7 linked regions of the Homo sapiens genome follow. The protein of the gene in region 5 purifies or fractionates together with the protein of the main gene of each other region. This does not show direct contact. Each region holds a gene or a part of one and is shown on either strand. Other genes may lie near its edges.

Evidence for each region.
Region 1: the proteins of PTPN1 (region 5) and GOLIM4 purify together in Homo sapiens (affinity purification with mass spectrometry; 2 studies listed by BioGRID and IntAct, with this or other methods). This does not show direct contact.
Region 2: the proteins of PTPN1 (region 5) and MSN purify together in Homo sapiens (affinity purification with mass spectrometry; 2 studies listed by BioGRID and IntAct, with this or other methods). This does not show direct contact.
Region 3: the proteins of PTPN1 (region 5) and ABCD3 purify together in Homo sapiens (affinity purification with mass spectrometry; 3 studies listed by BioGRID and IntAct, with this or other methods). This does not show direct contact.
Region 4: the proteins of PTPN1 (region 5) and CCT8 fractionate together in Homo sapiens (co-fractionation; one large-scale study listed by BioGRID). This does not show direct contact.
Region 6: the proteins of PTPN1 (region 5) and KIDINS220 purify together in Homo sapiens (affinity purification with mass spectrometry; one large-scale study listed by BioGRID and IntAct). This does not show direct contact.
Region 7: the proteins of PTPN1 (region 5) and GDPD5 purify together in Homo sapiens (co-immunoprecipitation; one large-scale study listed by IntAct). This does not show direct contact.

What each region holds. Positions count from the first base shown.
Region 1 is NC_000003.12:168,033,425-168,036,924, forward strand, and holds part of GOLIM4 (Golgi integral membrane protein 4), read right to left. Parts: coding exon 3,412-3,500; intron 1-3,411. UniProt on the Homo sapiens protein: Plays a role in endosome to Golgi protein trafficking; mediates protein transport along the late endosome-bypass pathway from the early endosome to the Golgi.
Region 2 is NC_000023.11:65,726,654-65,730,153, forward strand, and holds part of MSN (moesin), read left to right. Parts: intron 1-1,160; coding exon 1,161-1,256; intron 1,257-2,784; coding exon 2,785-3,059; intron 3,060-3,500. UniProt on the Homo sapiens protein: Ezrin-radixin-moesin (ERM) family protein that connects the actin cytoskeleton to the plasma membrane and thereby regulates the structure and function of specific domains of the cell cortex.
Region 3 is NC_000001.11:94,512,389-94,515,775, forward strand, and holds part of ABCD3 (ATP-binding cassette sub-family D member 3), read left to right. Parts: intron 1-2,757; coding exon 2,758-2,814; intron 2,815-3,387. UniProt on the Homo sapiens protein: Broad substrate specificity ATP-dependent transporter of the ATP-binding cassette (ABC) family that catalyzes the transport of long-chain fatty acids (LCFA)-CoA, dicarboxylic acids-CoA, long-branched-chain fatty acids-CoA and bile acids from the cytosol to the peroxisome lumen for beta-oxydation.
Region 4 is NC_000021.9:29,063,649-29,067,148, reverse strand, and holds part of CCT8 (T-complex protein 1 subunit theta), read left to right. Parts: intron 1-77; coding exon 78-258; intron 259-371; coding exon 372-433; intron 434-2,043; coding exon 2,044-2,181; intron 2,182-3,500. UniProt on the Homo sapiens protein: Component of the chaperonin-containing T-complex (TRiC), a molecular chaperone complex that assists the folding of actin, tubulin and other proteins upon ATP hydrolysis.
Region 5 is NC_000020.11:50,516,883-50,520,382, reverse strand, and holds part of PTPN1 (tyrosine-protein phosphatase non-receptor type 1), read right to left. Parts: intron 1-3,500. UniProt on the Homo sapiens protein: Tyrosine-protein phosphatase which acts as a regulator of endoplasmic reticulum unfolded protein response. Mediates dephosphorylation of EIF2AK3/PERK; inactivating the protein kinase activity of EIF2AK3/PERK.
Region 6 is NC_000002.12:8,831,114-8,834,613, reverse strand, and holds part of KIDINS220 (kinase D-interacting substrate of 220 kDa), read left to right. Parts: intron 1-3,500. UniProt on the Homo sapiens protein: Promotes a prolonged MAP-kinase signaling by neurotrophins through activation of a Rap1-dependent mechanism. Provides a docking site for the CRKL-C3G complex, resulting in Rap1-dependent sustained ERK activation.
Region 7 is NC_000011.10:75,449,442-75,452,941, reverse strand, and holds part of GDPD5 (glycerophosphodiester phosphodiesterase domain-containing protein 5), read left to right. Parts: coding exon of another isoform or gene 1-126; intron 127-610; exon of another isoform or gene 611-1,609; intron 1,610-1,708; exon of another isoform or gene 1,709-2,549; intron 2,550-2,958; coding exon 2,959-3,057; intron 3,058-3,331; coding exon 3,332-3,425; intron 3,426-3,500. UniProt on the Homo sapiens protein: Glycerophosphodiester phosphodiesterase that promotes neurite formation and drives spinal motor neuron differentiation.

The sequences.
Region 1 (3,500 bases), on a different chromosome or scaffold from region 5:
GAAACCCCGTCTCTACTAAAAAAACACAAAAAATTAGCCGGGCGTGGTGGCGGGCGCCTGTAGTCCCAGCTACGCGGGAGGCTGAGGCAGGAGAATGGCGTGAACCCGGGAGGCGGAGCTTGCAGTGAGCCGAGATTGCGCCACTGCACTCCAGCCTGGGCGACAGAGCAAGACTCCGTCTCAAAAAAAAAAAAAAAAAAAAAAAAAAAAAAAAAAAGAATGCCATTACTAATGAACATCCATGTTAGTTCAACACAGTGCCTGTTAAACAAGATACAATAAAATATTTTTAATGTATTAAAGTAGTAATTATTTGTAAACCAGCAGGACTCTTTTGTAAACATTTTTTATTGCTAATATTGAAAACCCTGAGCAGAAAAAGAAGAAATGGCTTTTTCAGAATAACCCTCCTCTAAAATTAGTTGACTCAAATCAGTTCTCCCTATAAGTTTCAGCGATCTCTATATGATCTGCACTACCTAGAAAGTGAGGAAGAAAGAGAATATAGTATATCAACAGAAACAAACGTCACTCTTTTTTTCTCTTTAACCTTCAGAAAAAAAAATCTTCTTTGGTTAGACTGCTCTCCCAAAATTGAAATAAATGTGAAATCCTATTCTTAAATTAGCAGAGATATAATTATCAAATCTGAGAAATTGGACTGTATTAATAAACTGGGGAGAAAAGTCCTTTCTCAGACATTTGAGGACAACTGGAGTTGCACATTCCACCGACATCCTCACATATCTGGCAAGTTTGACATAATACTGCCCTGGCTTTACAGAAAAATATTTCTCTAAAGAGCTCTAAGTACTTTCAAACACTTGTCATTTATCTTCACAATATCCTAGTGAGGAAGGTTAGTGCAGATAACTCCTATCTCCACCTCAGAGATGGAAAAACTGAAGATCTGAGTCACTGGAAGATTAATCCAGTAAACTGGCAGTCTGACAAGGGCAGAAAATAGAACCAACTGCCAGGCCAGTGATCTGGTCATGCTCTCTTTAGTTATTAACATAAGAGCCTGAGAAAGAATAAGAGTCCATGAAGATACTGAACCTGTCTGTTGAAGGAATACCCTGAACAGAGTGAAGAGGCTCATATATGAAGTCTACTCATATCAACTTAATTATTCCCATAACTTGGAGGAAAGTTTTCTCAGTCTTCTCTTTAATGTTAAAAACCACTTTGTGAGCAAAGGACATGAACACACACATCAAAAGAAGACACTGATATGGTTTGGCTGTGTCCCCACCAAAATCTCATCTTGAATTCCCACGTGTTGTGGGAAGAACCCGGTTAGAGGTAACTCAATCATGGGGTCAAGTCTTTCCCGTGCTGCTCTCACAATAGTGAACAAGTTTCACAAGATCTGATCGTTTTAAAAAGAGGAGTTACCCTGCACAAGCTCTCTCTCTCTGCCTGCTGCCATCCATGGAAGATGGGACTTGCTCCTCCTGGCCTTCCACCATGATTGTGAGGCTTCCCCAGCCATGTGGAATTGTAAGTCCAATTAAACTTCTTTCTTTTTTAAATCAACCAGTCTAGGGTATGTCTTTATGAGCAGCATGAAAACGGACTAACACAAACATATATGTGGCCAACAATCATACAAAAAAAAAAAAAAAACAACTCAGCATCACTGATCATTAGAGAAATGCAAATCAAAACCACAATGAGATATTATCTCACACCAGTCAGAAGAGCTATTATTAAAAAGTCAAAAATAACAGATTCTGGCGAGGTTGTGAAGAAAAAGGAATGGTTATACACTGTTGGTGGGAGTGCAGATTAGTTCAACCATCATGAAAGACAGTGTGGAGACTGCTCCAAGACCTAAAGATATAAATACCATTTGACTCAGCAAAATCCCATTACTGGGTATATGCCCAGAGGAATAGAAATCATTCCATTATAAAGACACATTCACTGCAACACTATTCACAATAGCAAAGACATGGAATCAACCTAAATGCCCACCAATTATAGACTTTGATAAAGAAAAATGTGATACATAAACACCATGGAATACTATGCAGTCATAAAAAAAGAACAAGATCATGTCCTTTGCAGGGGCATGGATGGAGCTGGGGGCCATCATCTGTAGCAAACCAACACAGGAACAGAAAGTCAAATACTACATGTTCTCACTTATAAGTGGGAGCTAAATGATGAGACACATAAGCACATAGAGGGGAACAACACACTGTACGGCCTATCAGAAGGTGGAGGGAGAGGAGCAGGAATATAGCTAATGGGTACTAGGCTAAATAGCTGGGTGATAAGATAATCTTTACAACAAACTCCCATGACACAGTTTACCTACGTAACAAACTTGCTCATGTACCCCTGAACTTAAAAGTTTAAAACAACCACTTTGTCAGAAAGATAACCATATTGCCTATTTTTTTATTACAGATGATTGGAAAAAAAAAAAACAACCTTTGTAGAAATTAGTGGTAATGGTAACTACTTCTGATGTCTCACTTATGAGATATTCTTAAGGCTTAATTTTTATAAAGAACAAGAATATAAAAAGGTGTATTATTTGACTAGCACTCATACCCGTAGGAGTGTCAAACAGGTCATTTAATTCAAATTTTGACATGCTCTGTGTAGACCTAGCACTGCTCCAAGTTAAAATATATTATTAACTTTAATATTTGAGTGGGTTGACTGTCACATAAAATCCTCATGATCATTTAACGTTCTCACCCTAACCCCCGCAAAATCCCCAACCTTGAAAAACTCAGATACTACAACTCCTTGAAGACAAATAAACCTACATGAATAAAGACAAAGCCATTAAAGCCTTTCTCAGACATACTAGCAGCGGCCAGGTGTGGTGGCTCACGCCTATAATCCCAGCACTTTGGGAAGCCAAGGCGGGCGGATCACCTGAGGTCAGGAGTTCAAGACCAGCCTGGCCAACATAGCGAAACCCTGTCTCTACTGAAAATACAAAAATTAGCCAGGCGTGGTGGCGGGCGCCTATAATCCCAGCTACTCGGGAGGCTGAGGCAGGGAGAATTGCTTGAACCCGGGAAGCGGAGGTTGCAGTGAGCTAAGATTGTGCCACTGCACTCCAGCCTGGACGACGTAGCATGACACTGTCTCAGAGAAAAAAAGAAAGAAAATACTAGCAGCAGTTCTCAAAGTTTGCTACTCAGACCAGCTAAATCAGTTAGAAATGCAAATCTTTAGGCCTCACTCCAAATTAACTAAATCAGAAACTCTGGGCCTGGGACCCAGTAATCTGTGTTTTATCACGCCCTACTGGCAATTCTGATATACTAAAATTTGAGAACTACTGCTCTCCCAGAAAAGTTGGCAATATTAAAAGCAGGTCCCCTCTTGGCAACTTGACAGAGAAAGTGACCTAACCATAGATTACCAGTTCACGCCCCTTACCTCCTGCACCTCTCGGGTTGGCTTCTCCCTTGCTGTGTTGTAACCTTGTGGAGAATGTGCCACCTGGGTCACATTTTGCTGTTCTGCTG
Region 2 (3,500 bases), on a different chromosome or scaffold from region 5:
ATATTAATTTGTTCATAAGGGAAGGACATCAGCAAAACTGGGTCCTTGTTCCCTGCTTCCATCTCCAGGTATATTTCTATGATTCTTTCTCACCTTACCCTTACCCTCCACTTGCATCCTTCTCCCAAAAAACAAAATAAAAAAGACTGCCTAAGGCCAGCCTGACCTCATTAGGATGTGGCTCAGCTTCACTGCTGCCATCGACAGTGGTGGGTATGCTGGGGTTGAGCTGAGGGCCAGACTATTAACATGCTAATGTCAGGGACTAGAGAACAGAGCTCATCTGTGTTCTCTTGGCAAGCCTCCTTTTCCTGCCCACTGTTCAGCCAGGAGGCTCAGGACAACAGGGGGCACCTCAGCTGCTACACTGAGGTACTTACCCTATTTCTACCCTCATTTCCACCCTAAACCTGTGTAAGAGGAATCATGACTTGGCTCTGATCAGGGTTGGAAAAAATCCTCTCAGAACCCAGGCACAGCATGGCTTCAGAGTCCTTCACAATCCCCGTTTTATCTTCTCAAACATTCTTTATTTGGGGTATTGTAAATGGAACTCAGTCTTAAGGGTGTGGGTATTACCCCCAGTTGCTAAGGATGAAGGACAATATATGGGAGTGGCCCAAGAGAACAAGATACAGGAGTTAATCCAACAATCTCCACCTTCAGCCTTTAATCCATCATGGAAGTGGGAAGTGGTGTGACATTGTAGAGGGAAGGAGGAGGTGGCAGAAATCACTGGATATGCATGGATTTGGAGTCAAACAGACCTGGTTTGAACCCTAATTCTGTCACTCACAACCTGAAACTTGGGCAAGTTATTTCATTTATTTGAACCTCATTTTTGATATCTATAAAATGGGCCTAATTGTAAGTCTAGCATAGGGGTATTATGAAAATTAAAGGAGATGATGGATGTAAGGTTCTTGGTATGTGTCAGTGCTCATAAGTAATAGATCCCTTTCCTGCCTCAGCAGTACTTTGTGCAGAGAGATGCCGACATCAGTTCTTGATTGCTGCTCAAGTATATTTTCTTGCCAGATGCTGAGCACCTTAAACCCTTTAAGGGCAGATATAATATTGACTTCAAACTTTGTGTCCTCTGTGCCTCACACAGAGGAAGTATTCAATCAATGGTTGGTTGTTTTGGTTTTCTCTTCTAGGTGGTGAAAACTATTGGCTTGAGGGAAGTTTGGTTCTTTGGTCTGCAGTACCAGGACACTAAAGGTTTCTCCACCTGGCTGAAACTCAATAAGAAGGTAACTGCTTATTCCTCTGTTGGATTTAGAATTCTTTTCTTTTCCAGAACATTCCTGGGAGGGTACCATGTGCTAGTTGGCAAATCCTGGATACCTAGGGCTGTGTTTGTGACTGGGTGGTCTGTTGACCACTTGGATCAGAATAAGGACCGAGGACACAAGCAAGGCAAAGCTCTTGCTCTGTCTCTACTTTGACTTCTAACAGCGACAATGGCCAGCATTCAAAGAAGAAGAGACTCTTTTCTTTCTAATGGGAACACTAGCTTGAACTTTGACTTGTTTTGGATCAAATCCATTAGTGGCTTTTCAAGAGAGGATTGGTATCCCCTTCATCTCTCCAAACTCAATGGCTTTAGGGGATTTGTGTTTTTTTTGTTTGTTTGTTTTTGTTTTGTTTTGTTTTTGACGGAGTCTCGCACTCTCGCCCAGGCTGGAGTGCAGTGGTGCCATCTCGGCTCACTGCAAGCTCCGCCTCCTGGGTTCACGCCATTCTCCTGCTTCAGCCTCTCGAGTAGCTGGGATTACAGGTGCCTGCCACCACGCCCGGCTAATTTTTTGTATTTTTAGTAGAGACGGGGTTTCACCGTTTTAGCCAGGATGGTCTCGATCTCCTGACCTTGTGATCCGCCCGCCTCGGCCTCCCAAAGTGCTGGGATTACAGGCATGAGCTACTGAGCTTGGCTGGGGATTTGTTAAAAAGAGCCACAGATTCTTGAACTAGAAAAAAAAAAATCTGAAAGATCTTACAGTCTTATGCTGCACCTTCTCCAGCAGTCAACTAATGTCTGAACCCCATATAGATGTTTCCCTCTTTCTTGATCTTTTACCTCAGTTGGACCCCAAATGGGATGGTTTGAGTCCATGCAAGCTCTCCACCCCAAGCAGCATCTTCACGGGAACCTGGCAGCCTTCCATCTTCGTATCCTCAAACTGGCTGGCCTTGTCCTTAGAAGTCTCCATACTGTCCTGCAGTTTGCTTCTCTGATTGTGTCTAGGGAGTAGGTACCCCACCTTCTGCTGGTAGAGTCTTGTTTTCCTAAAGAGTTGAGTCTTTTGCTGGACAAGTGTGGAGCCACTAGTATTCCATTTCAGGCTTTAAAAAATGGTCTAATTTGTGCTCTTGTTTAGCCAGTTCTCAGTCCTCAGACATATATCCTAGTCCTTACTTTGCTAATTTATGAAGTTGGAGGAGACTTATAAGACGAGCTTAAAAGAAGAGCTTATGCCTACTATCAGAATTTGGGGATAGTTGGATATAGTCAGATAAAAGTGGTTTGAAGATTTCTGATCATCAGTCGGTATTAAGGTAATTTCAGGAAGAAATTCCCAACAGAAAGTGATTACAGACATGGGATTCAGTCCCCAGTGAAAGTAATGTATTATTTTTCTTAATTACCAGGGGAGTTGCCACCCAGCTGTCTAAGATTATGCAAATTGATGATCTTTCAGTGTTTTCTCCCCACCCTACAGCCACTCCATTACCCTTAAAACCTATTTTTTGAGAGTCCATAACCCTTACTCTTCCCAGGTGACTGCCCAGGATGTGCGGAAGGAAAGCCCCCTGCTCTTTAAGTTCCGTGCCAAGTTCTACCCTGAGGATGTGTCCGAGGAATTGATTCAGGACATCACTCAGCGCCTGTTCTTTCTGCAAGTGAAAGAGGGCATTCTCAATGATGATATTTACTGCCCGCCTGAGACCGCTGTGCTGCTGGCCTCGTATGCTGTCCAGTCTAAGTATGGCGACTTCAATAAGGAAGTGCATAAGTCTGGCTACCTGGCCGGAGACAAGTTGCTCCCGCAGAGGTGAGGTGGTTCCCTGCCCTCCTTTGCCTTGGCCATAAGGGGCTGCAGCCCACAGCTGACCAATCCCTGCCTCACAGGGATGCCAGATCTGTTCTTCTCCATTGGGGTCTGTCTGAAGACTGTGTTATGCTGCTCAAGAGACATTTGCATATAGTGTCAGACTCTGTTGTTGTTTTTCTGGCTTTCCAAATAAAAAGCCTTTTTGTTTTCCCTCTGTCTACCTGGTTACAGAACTTTATTACCCTGGAGGCAGGTGCTTATATAGAACCAGAGATTGAGTAATTTCTTTCACCCATCCCTGGTTCCATTTTCTCAGTTCTTTTTACTGATTTAGATCTCTTATATCAGAAGTTCACAGGGGAGAGAGAGAAATAAGCAAACCGAGGACATGGGGAGCTCAAATAGTCTTTTAATATTGACAGCTAGTGTACAGAGCTTTCC
Region 3 (3,387 bases), on a different chromosome or scaffold from region 5:
TTTATATATGGGAAATATATTTAAATATGTTGTTTTATATAAATGAGATATAAAAGATAAAAGATATAAAAGATACCTCATTTATATAAAACAACGTATTTAAATCTATTTCACTTTACCTCATTACTTAGAGTTAATAAACTGACCTTTTCTTAATTTTTCCATTAACTTTATCTAAACATTAGAGTTTTTTTATGAATAAAACTCAACAATAATTATTTGGCAATTTTTAATTTATCCGTTTTATTTTCTAGCCTGAGCAATATTTTACCAAAGCTGCTTTTAGTAGCTAAGTCTGAGGCTATCTTTATTGGTTCCATTCTTTAAGTAATTATTCAATAGTATCAGTTTTCTTTCTTTGAGAAATTGTTACCAACATCTATACTATGGTTAAATTTTGGAACAAATGTAGTATATCCTAGCTGTTTTATAGTTTCTATATAAGTAAATGAGGTAGATGAGGATTTTTAACATTTTGTATGTGTTCTTTGGGAGTTCTCAATAAATAAAAAAGGTCATATTGAGTATATATATTATGAATTCCTACTATTCCAAGTGTGTTCATGATCAGCAGCAGCAGTGTCACCTAGGGGTTTGTTAGAAATGCAGAATTTCAAGCCCTGCTAAATCAGAATCTGCATTTTACCAAAATTCTAAGATGATTCAAATGCGCATTAAAGTTTGAGAAGCACTGGCGTGATGATGAAAGAATTTGCTATTCTTTGTAGAAAGATTTTAACTACTGATTTTATCTTGTTAATGATTTATTTTCTATTCTTGAATTTGCTTTGGTAATATATAATTATACATTTGTTCATGTTGGTTTTCAAATATATAGGTATTAGAGATGTTTATGGTATTCTCATGTACATAAAACCATGTAGTCTGCAGTTGATTCAATGACATAGCAGCTCTTTGCTGGTAATTTTGACCACGTGATTTCCTCTTATGCTCTAGCTATAGGCTTGAAGTCCCCACATAAGACTGTATAAATTCTATAAAACATCAGTTCCATTTAAAAGAAAATTCATATGGGGCCTCATTGATAATTTAAATTACTGTGATACCACTTAAACATGTATAAACATGATGAGGTGTGAATTCCTTAAGCTTAGAGCTCTTTTACAGCTACAAAACTAATATAAACTTACACATTAAATACATTAAATACAGACAAAACTTAAATACAGTTTCAAATTTACAACATTAAAGAGACCTATGATACCGTTTAGATGAAACTAAACCAGTGGTTTGGGATTTAATTAAGGAAAGATAGAATCTGAGGTTCAAATTTCATTATTTTGCATTTTGCTTTTTATTTTGACTTATATACTTCATATATTTTTTATATCCTCATGTAAAGAATGTGTGCATTAAGTAGATGTCTAATCCAATTATTGTAGTATCATAAACAGAGAAATAATATCTTAAATGAGCTCTGAAAAATCAGAAAAGTGTGGTATGGTTGAAATATATGTTTTATTAATACTGATAATATGCTTATTTTATTATGCAATTCCTAACCAATTTAAGAACCTTTTTACAGTGCAGCCAAACTTATTACACATTAGAAGTTTTATTTTATATCACTTTGGCAATCAGAGGTGTAGATACAAACCGAGGAACTTGAATCTCATGGTAAAAATGATCTAGAATATACTTATAATGATCTTTTAAAAATTATCATCAAAATGAAAATAAAATTAAGAAACCATGGTGGAAATTTCCCAGATGCCCTAAGCATGCATTTGCCAGCCTTGAGTGATCCACTTGGAGGAACAGTGACCCAGAGTGGGGTTTCTCAGTCCTGGCACTATTGACCTTTTCACTGTTAATTCCTAGTTGGGCAGGGTTGAGGGTTGCTGTGCACTGGAGGATGTTTAGAAAGCATCCCTGGCCTCTGCCCATTAGATGGCAGTAGTGCTTTCAGTTGTGAAAATAAAAATGCCTCCAGTCATTGCCAAATGTCCCCCTGAGGGACAAATATCACTGACCTCCCCACCTTGGTTGAGAACCACTGATCTAGAGCAACTACAGCTATTATCTATTAATGTTTTTTTTTTTTTGAAAATCTGAAGTACAGATCTATAAATACGTATTCACAATCTGAAATCCAGAAAGTGCTTAAATTTAAAACATTTTTCATAATTTTGTAGCAAGCTCACTGGGTAAAACTTCGCCTAAGCTAACAAAAGATATTTAAACTCTATATGTCTCAATATCAGTGTCCATGTGTGTTGCTACAGAAACATTTATGTGTTTAATTATAAAATTCTGCCTCAGAACTCTCTGGGGGTGTTAAATAATACATTTTCAAAATCTGAATTCCAAGACACATTCCAAAACAGTAGTTTACGGTAGGGGATTATGACCCTGTATTTGAAAAGCAAGTTGACTGTCAACAATGCTATACTGATTTAATTTTTCCTGATTTTGACCTTTGGCTATTTTTATCCTTCTCATATTCCTCTCATATATTTTTCACAATAAAATAGGAGACATGATAGGAGATATGTTTTTTGCCCAAAAGAAAATAATACACTTAATGCCAGTACCTGGTAGTTTTTATTATGTGGTTGATGGCCAGTACTTTCCATTGCTATAAACATTTTGCATCCAGTTGTAAATTTTTTCTCATTGACATTGCTTTTTAACTTTAGTCACTGAAGACTGTCCTCTTAACAGCTTAAAGTACATGGACTAGTTTAATTTGTGACTCTGTTACTCATTAAACCTAAATCATTTTCTTTGTATTAGGTTGGCATCACTCTCTTCACTGTGTCTCATAGGAAATCTCTTTGGAAACATCATGAGGTTTGTATTTCTTTCATTGAATGGTACAGTGAAATTTTATTTTCTTTAAAATATGAATTCAGGTTAATATGGTTTTAGATTTTATGGTTTGTATTCCCTTAAACATATGTCTTAAGGAGAAAAGGTGGTTTTGTTTTATAAAATAGGATTTTCTTAAATATTATAGTTGTCAGTTTTGAAAGCAATGGTGTAACAGTTTTTCTCCAGTTTTATAAGTGACTCTTATCTGTTAATAGTAACTGACTAAACTTTGCATAGTCTTATCACAAATATGGTGAAGTAAACTTTTCTTATCCAGCAGTGACAGAGGAGAAAAAGTCTTAAGAAGAATTAGATGGCAAAAAATTTAGGGACATTTTTAATAGAGGTCAGGACTACAAGGGGGAAGATTGAATAACATAAGCTATGTTTATCAATGTACTGTAGTAAGTAGGATTCATTAGATAGTCACTATAATTTACAAAGATATTCAAATGAGGCTTACATTGGTGCACGTGTATTACTTATTCTGGTGCTTCAGTAGTGCCATTCTCACTATGTCAGTTCTTTTCAACTCAATGTGAAATGCTCAAA
Region 4 (3,500 bases), on a different chromosome or scaffold from region 5:
AACATCCATATGCATTGGGTTACCAAAATAAGCTACTTTAAGTCATGTCAGAATAGGAAATGTTGTTTATGTTTTAGGTCATAGAAGGTTATGAAATAGCCTGCAGAAAAGCTCATGAGATTCTTCCTAATTTGGTATGTTGTTCTGCAAAAAACCTTCGAGATATTGATGAAGTCTCATCTCTACTTCGTACCTCCATAATGAGTAAACAATATGGTAATGAAGTATTTCTGGCCAAGCTTATTGCTCAGGCATGCGGTAAGTAAATATCAGTAAATGAAAAGATCCAAAATAAAAATACCTTTAACATGACTAGATACTTTCTCTGTTGTCCCAAAATAATCTTTTGATATGTCTCATTTTCTTAACAGTATCTATTTTTCCTGATTCCGGCCATTTCAATGTTGATAACATCAGAGTTTGTAAAATTCTGGTAAGTAGAAAATGCATTAATGCTACATATCTAGGTCAGTTTTTTTGTGTGCTTTTTTTGTTTTTTTGTGCAAAAAAAAAAAAATGTGTTCATCTAAACCTAAATGTTACTTCATGATTTGAACACTTAGGACTTTTTTTGAGGCATTATTTTTATTTATGTACTTATTTATTTTTGAGACGGAGTCTCGCTCTTGTTGCCCAGGTTGGAGTGCAATGACATGACCTCGGCTCACCGCAACCTCCGCCTCCCGGTTCAAGTGATTCTCCAGTCCCAGCCTCCCGAGTAGCTGGGATTACAGGCATGCGCCACCACACCCGGCTAATTTTGTATTTTTAGTAGAGATGGGGTTTCTCCGTGTTGGTCAGGCTGGTCTCGAACTCCCGACCTCAGGTGATCCACCTGCCTTGGCCTCCCAAAGTGCTGGGATTAACAGGCGTGAACCACCGTGCCTGGCCTTTGAGGCATTATTTTGTAACATTTTGATGTTGCTAAGTTGTAATAATACTACTACCTATTTAAGTTTAAAAGGATATTGACATATTATCTCCTTATAAAGTCATTTTCTGTGATGTCTTGTGGGTTTAAGAATAATGTATAAACAAAATACTAAATTTTTTTTTTTTTTTTTTTTGAGATGGAGTCTGGCTCTGTTGCCCAGGTTGGAGTGCAGTGCCTCGACCTCGGCTCACTGCAACCTCCACCTCCCAGGTTCAAGTGGTTTTCCTGCCTCAACCTCCCAAGTAGCTGGATTACAGGTGCATGCCACCATGTCCAGCTAATTTTTGTATTTTTTTAGTAGAGGCAGGGTTTCACCATGTTGGCCAGGCTGGTCTCGAACTCCTGACCTCATGATCTGCCCACCTTGGCCTCCCAAAGTGCTGAGATTACAGGTGTGAGCCACCGCGCCCAGCGCAAAATACTAATTTTTTTGTGTTCTTCATAATACTCTGAATTATAATAAGCTTATAAGACAGTTTTGAGTGGGGTGGAAATCGTCCTATTCCTCTTCAATAATAGAATTCACACTTTAATGTTAGTATTGAAATATTAAAGTATATTTTTGATAAAATGTGCTTGATAGAGTAAAACCTATCAGTGGAATGGTTTTGGTTTTGCACATTGGCATTCTGATTGTTAATGTGAATTTAGCATAACATAAGTACATGTGCTTTCCCTGAAGATACTCACGTGTTCTATGTTTGCTGTCTCCCTCCACGTACTGCCAGCTTTTCCCATTAAATGCAACCTTGTGAGAACAGAATCTTTGCTTTGTTCTGTGTTGTATTTGCAGTACTGACAGCTGTGGCTGGTATATTGGCACCAAGTACTAGGTAACTGAATGGCTAAGACCAGTTCTCTGCCTTTGGTTCTTCCCAGTACATGGAAGGACCTCCCCTCCCTAAAAGTAGCTCATTCCCTCAGTGATTTCTGCCTCGAGCAGAAGGGTGTGCTGTATGTCCACCACTCCACCCCTTATCCCAGGAGTCACTGCCTTGGTTTATGACTTTATTTTAGAAAGGGATATTTTTGGTATATGGAGAATCAACAGTTTGACCGTAATGTTATTTTCAGGAGATTGCTGATGAGTTTGGTATTCAATTCCTTAGGGCTCTGGTATCAGTTCCTCTTCAGTATTGCATGGCATGGTTTTTAAGAAGGAAACCGAAGGTGATGTAACATCTGTCAAAGATGCAAAAATAGCAGTGTACTCTTGTCCTTTTGATGGCATGATAACAGAAACTAAGGTATGTAGACTTCAAACCTTAAAAGTAATAATTGGGGTTGCACTTTCAGATTGTTTGAGTTAGCTCTTAAACCAGTAAGTACTTCTTAAAAAACTGAACATTGCAGGATCTTACCTATTTTTTTATGCCAGATTTATAGTCTTCAAATATCTAATTCAACTACTGAACATTAAACTGGAAATATAAAGATGGTGGCCGTATTATTTATAATCTGACACACAGCCCTTCTAGTAGAGCTTATACATTCAGCAAGTGAAAGAATATGAGAATGTGAGTATTTTGTGTGCTCTTCACGAAAATAAAGTTGACATTCTGTAGCATCCTAAAACAAGATAAGCTAATGTAATTTGAAAATGGTAAGTATGTTTCTAAAAATACATGTTAGAAAGTTTGAAGTTTGTGTTTATAGTCAATAGTGGCTGACTTCATCTCTAGAATTCTTGAAATCCAAGTTGTTGATAGTTTTAAAATTTTGTAGCATGAGGGGGGTCTGGTCATTTGGTCCATATTTTATTTTATTGTATTTTATTCTTTTTTTTTTTTTTTTTTTTTTTTTTTAGAGTCTTGCTTTGTCACCCAGGCTTGAGTCCAGTGGTACAATCTTGGCTCCCTGCAACCTCCGCCTCCTGGGTTCAAGTGATCTCTGGCTAATTTTTGTATTTTTAATAGAGACAAAGTTTCACCATGTTGGCCAGACTGGTCTCCAACTCCTGACTGCAAGTGATCCACCCGCCTTGGCCTCCCAGAGTGCTAGGATTACAGGCATGAGCCACCGCGCCCGGCCTAGTCCACATTTTAGAAAAAGTTTGAGAACCACAATGTTGTATTGGGAACACTAGTTAGCCTTTGTCAAAAGACAAACACCAGGACACCTACCTACCTGACATATTTAAAATAAAAGCACTTCTCGGCCGGGCACGGTATCTCACGCCTGTAATCCCAGCATAGGCCAAGGCAGGCAAATCACGAGGTCAGGAGTTCAAGACCAGCCTGGCCAACATGGTGAAACCCCGTCTCTACTAAAAATGCAAAAATTAGCTGGGCGTGGTGGCGCTTGCCTGTAATCCCAGCTACTTGGGAGGCTGAGGCAGGAGAATCGCTTGAACCAGGGAGTCAGAGGTTGCGGTGAGCCGAGATCCTGCCTGCACTCCAGCATGGTGACAGAGTGAGACTCTGTCTCAAAATAAATAAATAGATAAAAGTACTTTTCCACCTAAGTACTTATCAAAAGCAGATGCATCTGTTTTGACAGGGGGTTCTAGAAGCAAGCTGAGTTTCTATTTCACACATACAGTATTCTGCTGCTTCATAATATATGC
Region 5 (3,500 bases):
TTTTTTTTTTTGAGACAGAGTTTCACTCTTGTCCCCCAGGCTGTAGTGCAATGGTATGATCTCGGCTCAATGCAACCTCCGCCTCCCAGATTCAAGCGATTCTCCTGCCTCAGCCTCCTGAGTAGCTGGGATTACAGGCATGTACCACCACGCTCGGCTAATTTTGTATTTTTAGTAGAGACAGGGTTTCACCATGTTGGTCAGGCTGGTCCTGAACTCCGGACCTCAAGTGATCCACCCACCTCGGCCTCCCAAAGTGCTGGGATTACAGGCGTGAGCCACCATGCCCGGCCGGAATCAAAGATTTTTAAATACTGTCACTATGCTTCCAACTGTCCAACTTCCAAAGTACTGAGAAAATATTTTTTGAAATGTAGCCAAGTATAGAATATAGACTGTGTCCTACATTCAAAAGTTGTCTTTCTAGAAAGCATGTTTTAATGGCAAAGGATACAAAGCAAGCTGTAAAAAGAGACTAAAATTAGCTCAAACCACAAATAACCTAACATACTTATCACTTCCTTATGATCAACCTACAAAAATCAAACTTTAAAGGCACTTACAAAACTAAAGGTGGGAGGCCAACTGCACCCTTTAACTTCGCTATACCTTTCCTCCTTCTAACATGGACCCTGGCACATAAACACTGCCAAACGATGACACTGTGTTAACGTGAAGGCAAGCACCAGGGAAACTACGGGAGCACAGTTTTGCCCTGTAAATAAAACAGCATGTACCATGCAGTTCTTAAGTGGTTAGAAGGGTAACTACCTCCTCAAACTGAAGATGGGAAATGCAGATGAAGGCCCACACCCATCTTCAGCTGCATTTCACAGACAGCTAAGGACATACCACGCTCCCACTTCAAACAAAATATTCTTCCATCTTCTAAAGCCATCTATTTCCTACTTTCAAAAGCAACATCTTCCAAATCTATTGGGAAACCAAAAGTTTGTTACCATTCGAGTAGTGGAACAAGTTGCAAAATGAGGTTTAGTTGACAAATATGTATTCATGGGTAAAAAAAAGGCACTGGGTTTGTTAAACTACATCTACTTTTTCAGTGATTCTCTCTCTGAGTGTATTAACTATGTCTGATAAGTTTTGTGATAAATTTTTTGGAGAAACTTCAAGCTCACAAAGGATGAAAACAAGTGGTTAAGGATGAGTACAGAACCTACCAATACCACTGTGCACACTCCAATACTGTTACTCAAACTTTCAAAAGCATTTTCATTAGCAGGTAGAGAAATAGGGGCAAGTAGCAGACCTGGGTAGTTATTTGTGGTGTGAACAGACCAAACAAAATACTGATAATGGCACTAATATTCCTAAGATTTATTCAAGAAAAACTGTCAGTAAGACATGAAGGAATATTTAGAAATGCTCAGAAATGACACCATGATAGGTACATAAAGGGCCCATTGAAACCCAGCATTCTAGGGATGTGGATTCTCAAGGAATATTCAAGAGCAACCTTTAGGTGTGGCTAAACCAGGTTGTATTCTGGGGACTGCTCCAAAAATTTGGTTTTATGCTTGTATAAACCTGATGTAGCTTAATGTAACTTTCTGATCTTGGCCCCATTCTGCCTCACCCCACCTCGGAGCATGATCCTTAACACTATGGCAACAGGGAGGTGGCGTCCAGGTAGTAGAGAACAATAAGAGTAATGCTCTTAATTCAAAAGTGCTGTCAAGATACAGTTCAGTTCAGAGTAAAAACAACAAAGCAAAACAATGACAACAACAACAACAAACCAAAAAATGACATATTCTCTCCCTGCCCCGAAAAAAAAATTCACTGGGTACCTTCTTAGAGGCCTCTTTTCTCTGTGCAAAAGTTAGCCACAAAAATATTTATGACTCAGTGAAGGCGTATTTTCCCTTTATCCTTACAGAAGCAAACTAAGCCCTGACTATTTGAAAAGTGAAACAGTAGTTAACAGCGACAAATGTTCAAACATCAAGGAGAGTTAAAGCTAATTTACCATGTTATGCTAAATGCAGTTTGCTTATTTGTTCTCTTGAGTGAAGTTATATTCAGAAGTGACTTCATCCTTAGACATTTTTAAGTAACTCACGTTCTTAAGAGAACTCTATTTGGAATAATTACTTGATGTTCACTTTCCTGTAAGAAATTCGCAATAGTGTACAATCCTGTAACCGGGGCCCATCTGGATAAAAATTAGCTAAGCTGTTTGCTGTAATGTAACGTAGTGACTTTTAAGTAAGATTCTGCAAAAGGAAGAGAAGTGCCAATAAAAGATCCATTAAGAAAGGAAAAAAGTCGAAAAACGTTTCTTAACAGAGACAAGGGAAGAGTTTTCCTTTTCTAATCACTAAGAAATTTTTAAAAATTATTTTGAAAGCCTAGTTTTGCTATGCTCATCTTATCTTTGCAAGTGATGTTGCTCACCCACAAAAGCCACAAACACAGCCGAGGCTTCCTTCTTCATCTGTAAAAGTAAAATATACCTCAGTCTCTAGGAAGAAACATCTGAAAAGTAAAGAGAAGGAGACAGGGACACAAGCCTACTTGGGACCCAAAACTTTACTTCAAGTGGTTAATCCTCAAGAAGGATTTAGAATTTCCCAGCACTAGATTCAGAGTAGTAAAGAATACGTTTATTTCCCAGAGAAAATGCAGACCTTAAGTGTCCCTTTGCCATGTTTACTCTGAGTCCATATTACAGAGCTGACTTCAGAGCACTAATTCTATCTAATTACCATAGGGTATCCATAAAACCTTACTGCCTTAGTAAAACCATAAGCACTCAGTAAATCGAACGATGTCATACGTTTTTCTCTTAAAAAAAGGGCTGGGCCGGGCACAGTGGCTCACACCTGTAATCCCAACACTTTGGGAGCCTGAGGCAGACAGATGGCTTAAGCCCAGGAGTTCAAGACCAGCCTGGGCAACACAGCAAAATCCCATCTCTACTCCAAAAAAATACAAAAATTAGCTGGGCGTGATGGCACATGCCTGTAGTCTCAGCTACTTGGGAGCCTGAGGTGGGAGGATCACTTGAGCCCAGGAGGTGGAGGTTGCAGTGAGCCAAGATTGTGCCACTGCACTCCAGCCTGGACGACACAGCAAGACCCCATCTCAAAAAAAATATTAAAAAAATAAACTTTAAAAGGACTGAAAATCATTTATAAGTACTTGGTATTATTTTATTTGTAGTAGTGTGACTTGTACCAAAGCCCAGAGATCAATAGATTTGATGGCTACAGTTTTCTTTGGCTGTTTCAGGGCAGGAGGGAATCTTCCATGTGAAATGGTCTTATTTTCAGTTTTCATACAATCAAAATTTACAAGCTGTCAGCAAGATACTCATGATTATGTCAAGCTGCTTTGAAAAAGGAGAGGGCAGCAGCTATTAAACTCTAAAGACCATTTCTACACAAAGTAAAGCATTATTTCTAAAATGCTGGAGACTTAGGTACTTTCTTCTCAAATATGGCAGATGTGTAAACTATCATATTATTCAAATGAAA
Region 6 (3,500 bases), on a different chromosome or scaffold from region 5:
TAGTCTTTATTCTCATTGAGCTACATTTGTTTGGCTAGGGGAAGCAGACCAAAAACAAAGTATGTGGTATGTGGAGTGATGCTAGGTGTTATAAAGAAGACCTTTAAAGTAGGGCTGTGGAAGGGGGATATAGTAGAGGGGGAGAGGGCTGTTTTATACACGTATAAATGGTATACACCATTTATACACGGTGGTCAGAGAAGCTCTGATCAGGTGACGTATGTACAGAAAGTCACTGTGGCCTGAGTAGAGTCAAGGAGAAGGAGCAGCAAGAGTTGAGCTTAGGGAGGTGGAGAAGGGGTGGAATAGATCAAGCAAGGCCTTGGCCCTGGTAGGGATCTGGGATTTTGAGTGAGAGGACAACCGTTGGGATGTTTTGAGCACAGAATGGTTGTAAGAAGACACGATTCAGGAGGACCACTTAGGCCTCTGTGTGGAGGGGGCAAGCGCTGCCACCCAGGCCCAGGAATGTCAGCACCAGGGTAGGCTCTGGGGACTGCACAGGGGTGATTGTTGCTGGAGACTTAAGTGGGAGGAGGAGAAGAGGGGCTGGAGATAGAGAACCATGGGAGGGGCCACATTCAGGAACTTACTGTGTCGTATCTGGAGGATAAGAAATAAGTAAGCCTTGGGCAGCATGGCACTATTGTTGCTTTCATGCACTGTGTCTGTAACCGGAGAAAAGTTATAGGGTGCGTCTATTAACCGATTGGCCTTTTGGTGAAAGCATTTTGAATACATTTAGAGATTTTGCCTATTAAATTGGCAAGTTCTAAAAATGGACTTACTACAACATAAATTTTTTGTTCTGACATTGCTGTTGGCTACATCTGCCATTTTCAAAACGGGTGGCAAGACATTAATTTTTTTGCTAATTGTGCAAAAGAATGTATAGCCTTATATTCCCATTAGAGAGAAAGTGCTGTGGACATTAGATTCAACTGATGTCCATTTATTCAAGAAATATAGTGTCTTGTATGGGCCAGCTATTAAGCTAAGTGTTGGGTATTTGGTATAGAACGAAAGAAAATAATTCATTCCTTTTAAAAGCTTATATCCTAGTGGGAGAGACAGCTATTAATCAGGTAAATATGTCCCATTCCAGCAGGTGTAGCTAAAAAAAAAAAAAAAAAAGACAAATTTAAAAAACATAAATATGTAAATTACAAGTTTAGTAAAGTGTTATGAAGGAATAAAAAAGATTCCATAATAGAGAACAATCCAGGTTATGAGAATCAACCAAGAAAGGGTGGTTAAGAAATGATCATATTCTGTTATTATGTAAAACAGCTAATATTTATTGGCTTCATATGGGTTAGGTATTATTTTAATCCCATTGCATGTAATTGTGCAGTTATTTGAAGATGGGGAAACTCAGACACTGAGGTGAAGAAACTACCCCAGGGGACAGGGAGTGATAAAGAGAGGCTGGTTAATAAGTACAGACATACAGTTAGGTAGAAGGAGTAAGCTGTAGTGTTCAGCAGCATGGTACTATGCTTAACAGTTTATTGTGTATTTTATTTTTTATGGTATATTTTAAAGTAGCTAGAAGATAAGATTTGAGATGTTCCCAGCACCAAGAAATGAGAAAAGTTTGAGGTGATGGATATCCTAAATACTCTGATTTGATCATCACACATCCTATGCATGTAATCCAAATATTACACATACCCCATAAACATGTACAATTATTATGTATTAGTTAAAAAAATTAAGGAAAAAAAAAAGAAACTAGCCTGGGATGATATAATGGTCAGTAGTAAAGTCAGGAGTCAAACCAAGGTAGTCTGGCTCTAGGGTCCATACTTTTGACCACTAGACAGCTTCGTTTTAAGCCGAAAGGGCTTTTGGAAGTGAACGTTGAACTGAAATGTGAAAGATGAGAAGCTGTAGTTTTCCTCCTGTGATGAAACATTTTTTTTTCTATTGAAAATGAACGTAGACTTAATACATCAAGTAAAACAATATAGCACAAAGACGCGTGAAGGCAAAGCTAATCATCTCCTCCTTTTAGTCCTACATGGTAAGATAACGAATTTTACAGCCAGGTGTGTGTCCTTCCACACTTTTCTTTTTGTTCATGTGTACACACTGGATAGATACATATATGGGGGTCTTATTTATTTTATCAAGTAGAATTATACTACACACGTGCTCTTAAACATGACAGCGTGTCATTGGTTTTACTATTGTGTGTATCAACAGATGTGGATTTAATGTTCTAATTTTATTTTGTAATTTCTAGGCACTTATATATGTGCTTACAAACATCTTATGACATTTAATAATCAATTATTCAGTGAAATTTATTAAACACTGTCAGTGCCCTCTAGTCAAAGACTGCCAGGAACATACCTCTAGTTGAACAAAGTTGGTCTTATTAACTCCCTGCAATGAAGGAGAATGCCTGTCCTAGGGAACGTTGGGGGTCTCTGTAACAGGTTGTTAGAAAGGACTTAGAAGATTCGAGATGATGTTAGGTGATTCGGGGAAGAGTTCAAGGAAGCAAAGCTTTGCTCAGTCTCGGGTGCTTCAGGAATAAGGAGGAGTGGGAATTCTGCAATTGGATATTTAAAATCTTAACGAAAAGGCAAGAGGTATGGAGTAAGGCTAAAGCTGTAATTGATAAAGAAGCAGCAATGCTTCATATTAGCCACGATAGGAAGATGTTTGGGCATTTTGTGGTTTGGGTGATGTTCATGTTTTTGTCTATGTTCAGATATGATTCCAGAGTAGTCTTATTTTTGTCTTCATATCCTGGTGACAGAGTGACCTTGTTTGATGTTGGCATTCTTTGAAATTGTTGCATTTATGTTAGAACACCAAGTCTGGCTGTGTGTGCCGGGTCAGTTCCCGACAGTCAGGGGCTGCTTTTCTCTCTCACCTCCTGTTGTGTAGGCATTGTGCTAGATATAAAGCAGATCCTGCTGCAAGAACTTCTAGTCTAAGGGAGATGTGGAGAGAGTGAGTAAAATGGAGAGGAGAGTTGAGTGTGATGTGAGCAGTCTACAACTAGATGTATACACAGGTGTGGAGGAGCCCAGGGCCTGGCCCAGCTTGGGGTAAGCAGCCAGTCAATGAAGGCTTCCAGAAGATCTGTTAGAGCCATGTTCTTAAGGATGGGTAGGAGCTGTTCAGGCATATATACGTGGAGAATGGACTTTCTAAGCAGAGGGGGCATTAAGTGCAAAGGTCTGGAAAGAACAAAGTGTGGGGCAGTGAAGGAGCTGCAAGTAGATCAGTCTGGCTGGAGCTGGAGGTGTAGATGTGACTATGTAGAGGGTGGGAGGGATGGGGCTGAGGAGGGGAGAAAGATAAGGCTGGAATGGTAAGATGGGGCCAGATTGTGAAGAATCTGCATGCCCTCATCATAATCAAGAATTGAACTTACTGAGTTTTCACTCTGCTCAGTGGAGAGCAAAGCTTTCCGTAGGAATTGTGTATTTGCATCTTTACAATGGCTTTAAAAGCCTTAGAAGGCGTAAGTTCCTTGAATA
Region 7 (3,500 bases), on a different chromosome or scaffold from region 5:
TGTCCTCGCCTGACTCCCCTGCCTCAGTGGCAGCAGCCCCCAGCCCAGGACCTGCACAGAGGAGGCGTCTGTCAGCGACCCAACCTGAGCCCCAGAGAGGAGCACTGGGTACCACACAGCCCCAAGGCAAGTTACTGGCTGGGCTGGGGCTGGGGCTTCTGCCTCCTACCAAGGCTCCATCAGCCTCTACCTGCCATCTGCTATGTCTACTTCATCACCTCTCCTGGTGAATTCAGACTTCTCTCCATGCACTGGCCCCAGCTTTATGGTTTTTCCTGGTGTCCAGCCTCTGTCCCTCCAGCAGCAGCTTAAGGAAGGCGCATTCACTGAGCACCTCCTGTGTGTGCCAGGCACTGCGTTCACCATAACAGCAGTAACCATCCTTTATTGGGTGCTGACCACATGTGTCAGGCACCTTTCACTCAGAATTTCACAGTCATTTCACTCCTCACAATAATCCTGTTCCCATATCATGCTCACTTTTTAAAATGATATCACTGAGATTTAGTAAGCATTTTCTTCTGGCCAGCCGTTGTACTAAGCATTTCACTTGCATTTCCTCACTGATCTTCCCCAACCCCCTTCCAGGTAGGTACTCACTATCCCTATTTCACAGCTCTGGAAAGGTCCCTGGAGAGGATGTGGAAAGATCCCCAGTAGGTAGCAGAGCCAGGATTCGACTGAAGACCGTGATTCAAGTGAGGCTCTTAACCCTGGGCCAGCTGTCTGCCATTTGGACTGCAAAACCCAGAGGCCAGATACCCCTAAGAGGCCAGCTGTTGCACCTCTGCAAGGCGGGGTTCCACCTCCTCTCGGGTCCCGGCACCTAGGCCAGACTCATCGAATGAATGAAAGACTCTGTTGTATCCCCTGTACCCACCATGGCTATCACAAGCCACAGTCCCATGAAGACAGAGAACCCAAGGCCACTTTCTCAGAGGAGGACGGTGATCTGTCTCTGGGCCTCTAGGGTGGGATTCATCCTTCTCAGTCAGATTTCAGGAGCGATGGTGGTTGCGTTTTTGGGTGTCAGTGCTATTGCTATAACTTAATGATGCAAGGTAGGGAAGTCCCACAGACACTGAACATGCAGTGATGCTGCTGAGTGTGTTGATTAGCACCAAAGCAACTGTGGAACTCAGAGATAATAACATTTTTAATTGTATTAGGGTTTGGGGAATCAGTTTTATTGCAAGTCGTTTCCATTAATAGGTATTGTGATGAGATGCTCCTGGAAACCATCCTTAACTCACTGTGTGCAGGGCCACCTCCCACGATGGCCACAAGGGGGAGCTGCGCGCCGGGGGCAGCCGGGAGAAGGGGCCTGAGTGCCGAGGGCGGGGTTCTCAGGGGTTCGGAGGCGCAGCTGGGCCTCCCAGAGACTGCGCAGCCTCTCTGACACCAGCGTGCTGTCTGTCCGAGAAAGCGCACACCCCCTTACCCCCTGAGATGGGCAGAAGGTGTTCGTTTCTGGTTCTGCCCCTTCAAAGCTCCGTGACCCAGCCAGCTGTTCCTCTCCCCGAACCTCGCTTCCCGTGTGTGAGATGAGGATGCTCGTGCCTCCGCGGAACCAACCTGGGGACCACGCGAAGCGCCCCCACAGGCCCAGGCACGCCCATGCCTCTTCCCGCCCCGAGCCCCCATGTCACAGCCCTTCCAGCTCCTCACCTGCCTCGCTCAGGTCTCTTGGGGGAACATTTGTTTCCAGGCTGATGGGCTGGAATGAAAAGCCTCCAAAGGGAAACTTCATCCCAGGCGAGACTCAGCATTCCCCGCCGGCGAGTGAAGGTCCCTGGGTAGGGAGCGGAGATGCTGGCCACCGCCCCACCCTCATCGTCTAGAAATGCCACTGTCCCTGCTCGGCATCAGAGGGCCCTGGCCGCTGCTGCCTCTGGGAAAGGTTGCCTCGGGAGAAAGGGGGTGAAGGCCCTGCCAGCAGCTAGAACGGCTCCAGGGAGGCAGGGCGGCCGGCAGTGCTGTGGGAGAAGGACAGGCCTTTGGAGGGAGATGGGAGACGAGTCTGGAGAAACTAGGGGGACGGAGGTGGCGGCTTTGACTGACCCTTCCAGAGACTGGGATCTGCGGGAGGCTTTGGAGGAGAGCCACAACCTGGGCTTCGGGGAGGCACGCCTGGGGGTGTGGAGGGGGGTGGGTGGAGTGAGATCCACGGCTAGGGGCGAGGGGCTGGGGGCCGAGGAGCCGAAAACCTCTGCCGAGCTTCACGTGGTTAAAGATTTCAGGTCTTACCTGTCACCAGAGATCTCTGTCCCGTAGAGGTGCCACCTCATCCTCCATGAGAGCTGTGCTTTGCTTTCTTCTGGAGGCTGCAAGGAGGATGGCCCCCATCACGGCGGACCTAGATGCTGGGAGTCCGGGAGAGGGCAGGCCGTGGAGATGGGGCAGGTGGCGATGTGTTTCACCACCCACTCCCGCCTGAAGTGCCACTGTGAGCCCAGCCCAGGGTGCCAGGCTGGGCTGCACTCCAGGCTCCTGCAGCAGACCCAGTTCCTCAGCCTCCTTCCCCTGAGGCCTGGGCATGGCCTGGACAAGTGGGTTTCCTCCTCTGCTGTGCCATGCTGAGGTGGCAGGGAGGCTGGGCGGGACCTTGGATGTGACTAACCTGCCAGGCCCAGGGAGGTCCCCCTTACTGAATGTCCTCCCTCCTCACAGTTCCCTCCTCCTCCTGTCCCCATCCTCCCTTCCATTTCTCGCTGTCCCTTCCTCGCTGGGTCTGCCGGCCTCCTGCTGCCTCCTCCTGCCTCAGTCTCTCCCTGCCGTGTCTATCTGCCGGCCTCTAGTTTCCTGGCAGCCCATGCCTGTCTCTTTCCTCCCTCCCCTCTGCCCTGCTCCATCGGCCTCTCCTGCCCTCTCTGTCTCTCCCTCTGGCTCCTCTCTCAGACACACTGGGAACCCTCCCACCCGCTCTGAGCCTCTGTCCGGTGACTCTTCCCCCTCCAGATCGGGCTGGTGGTCATCCTGGCTTCCACGGTGGTGGCCATGTCGGCCGTGGCCCAGCTGTGGGAGGACGAGTGGGAGGTGCTGCTGATCTCCCTGCAGGTGAGTGAGGAGGGTCCCCCAGGACCCTCACAACAAGAGCCTTTCTGTCACTTCCCTTTCTCCAGACCAAGGCCCAAAGAAGGGCAGGGAGGCGCCCAGGGTCACAGAGCAGGTCAGAACTAGGGAGGACACCAGGGTCCTGAGGCTCCCAGTGTCCCCAGTTGGCAGATGGAGACAGGGTTGCCTGCCTCATAGGTAGAAGTAGGAGGCTGGTGACACAGGGTCTGGGCAGAGCTGGGCGTTACTGGTCTCCCTTCCCTCTCCCTGCAAACAGGGCACAGCGCCATTCCTGCATGTGGGGGCTGTGGCAGCAGTCACCATGCTCTCCTGGATCGTGGCAGGACAGTTCGCCCGCGCAGAGCGGACCTGTGAGTAGAACTGTGAAGGGCCTGCCCCTCCAATCCCTGCAGGTGCCAAGACCAGCTGGTGCTGCCCCGACCTGG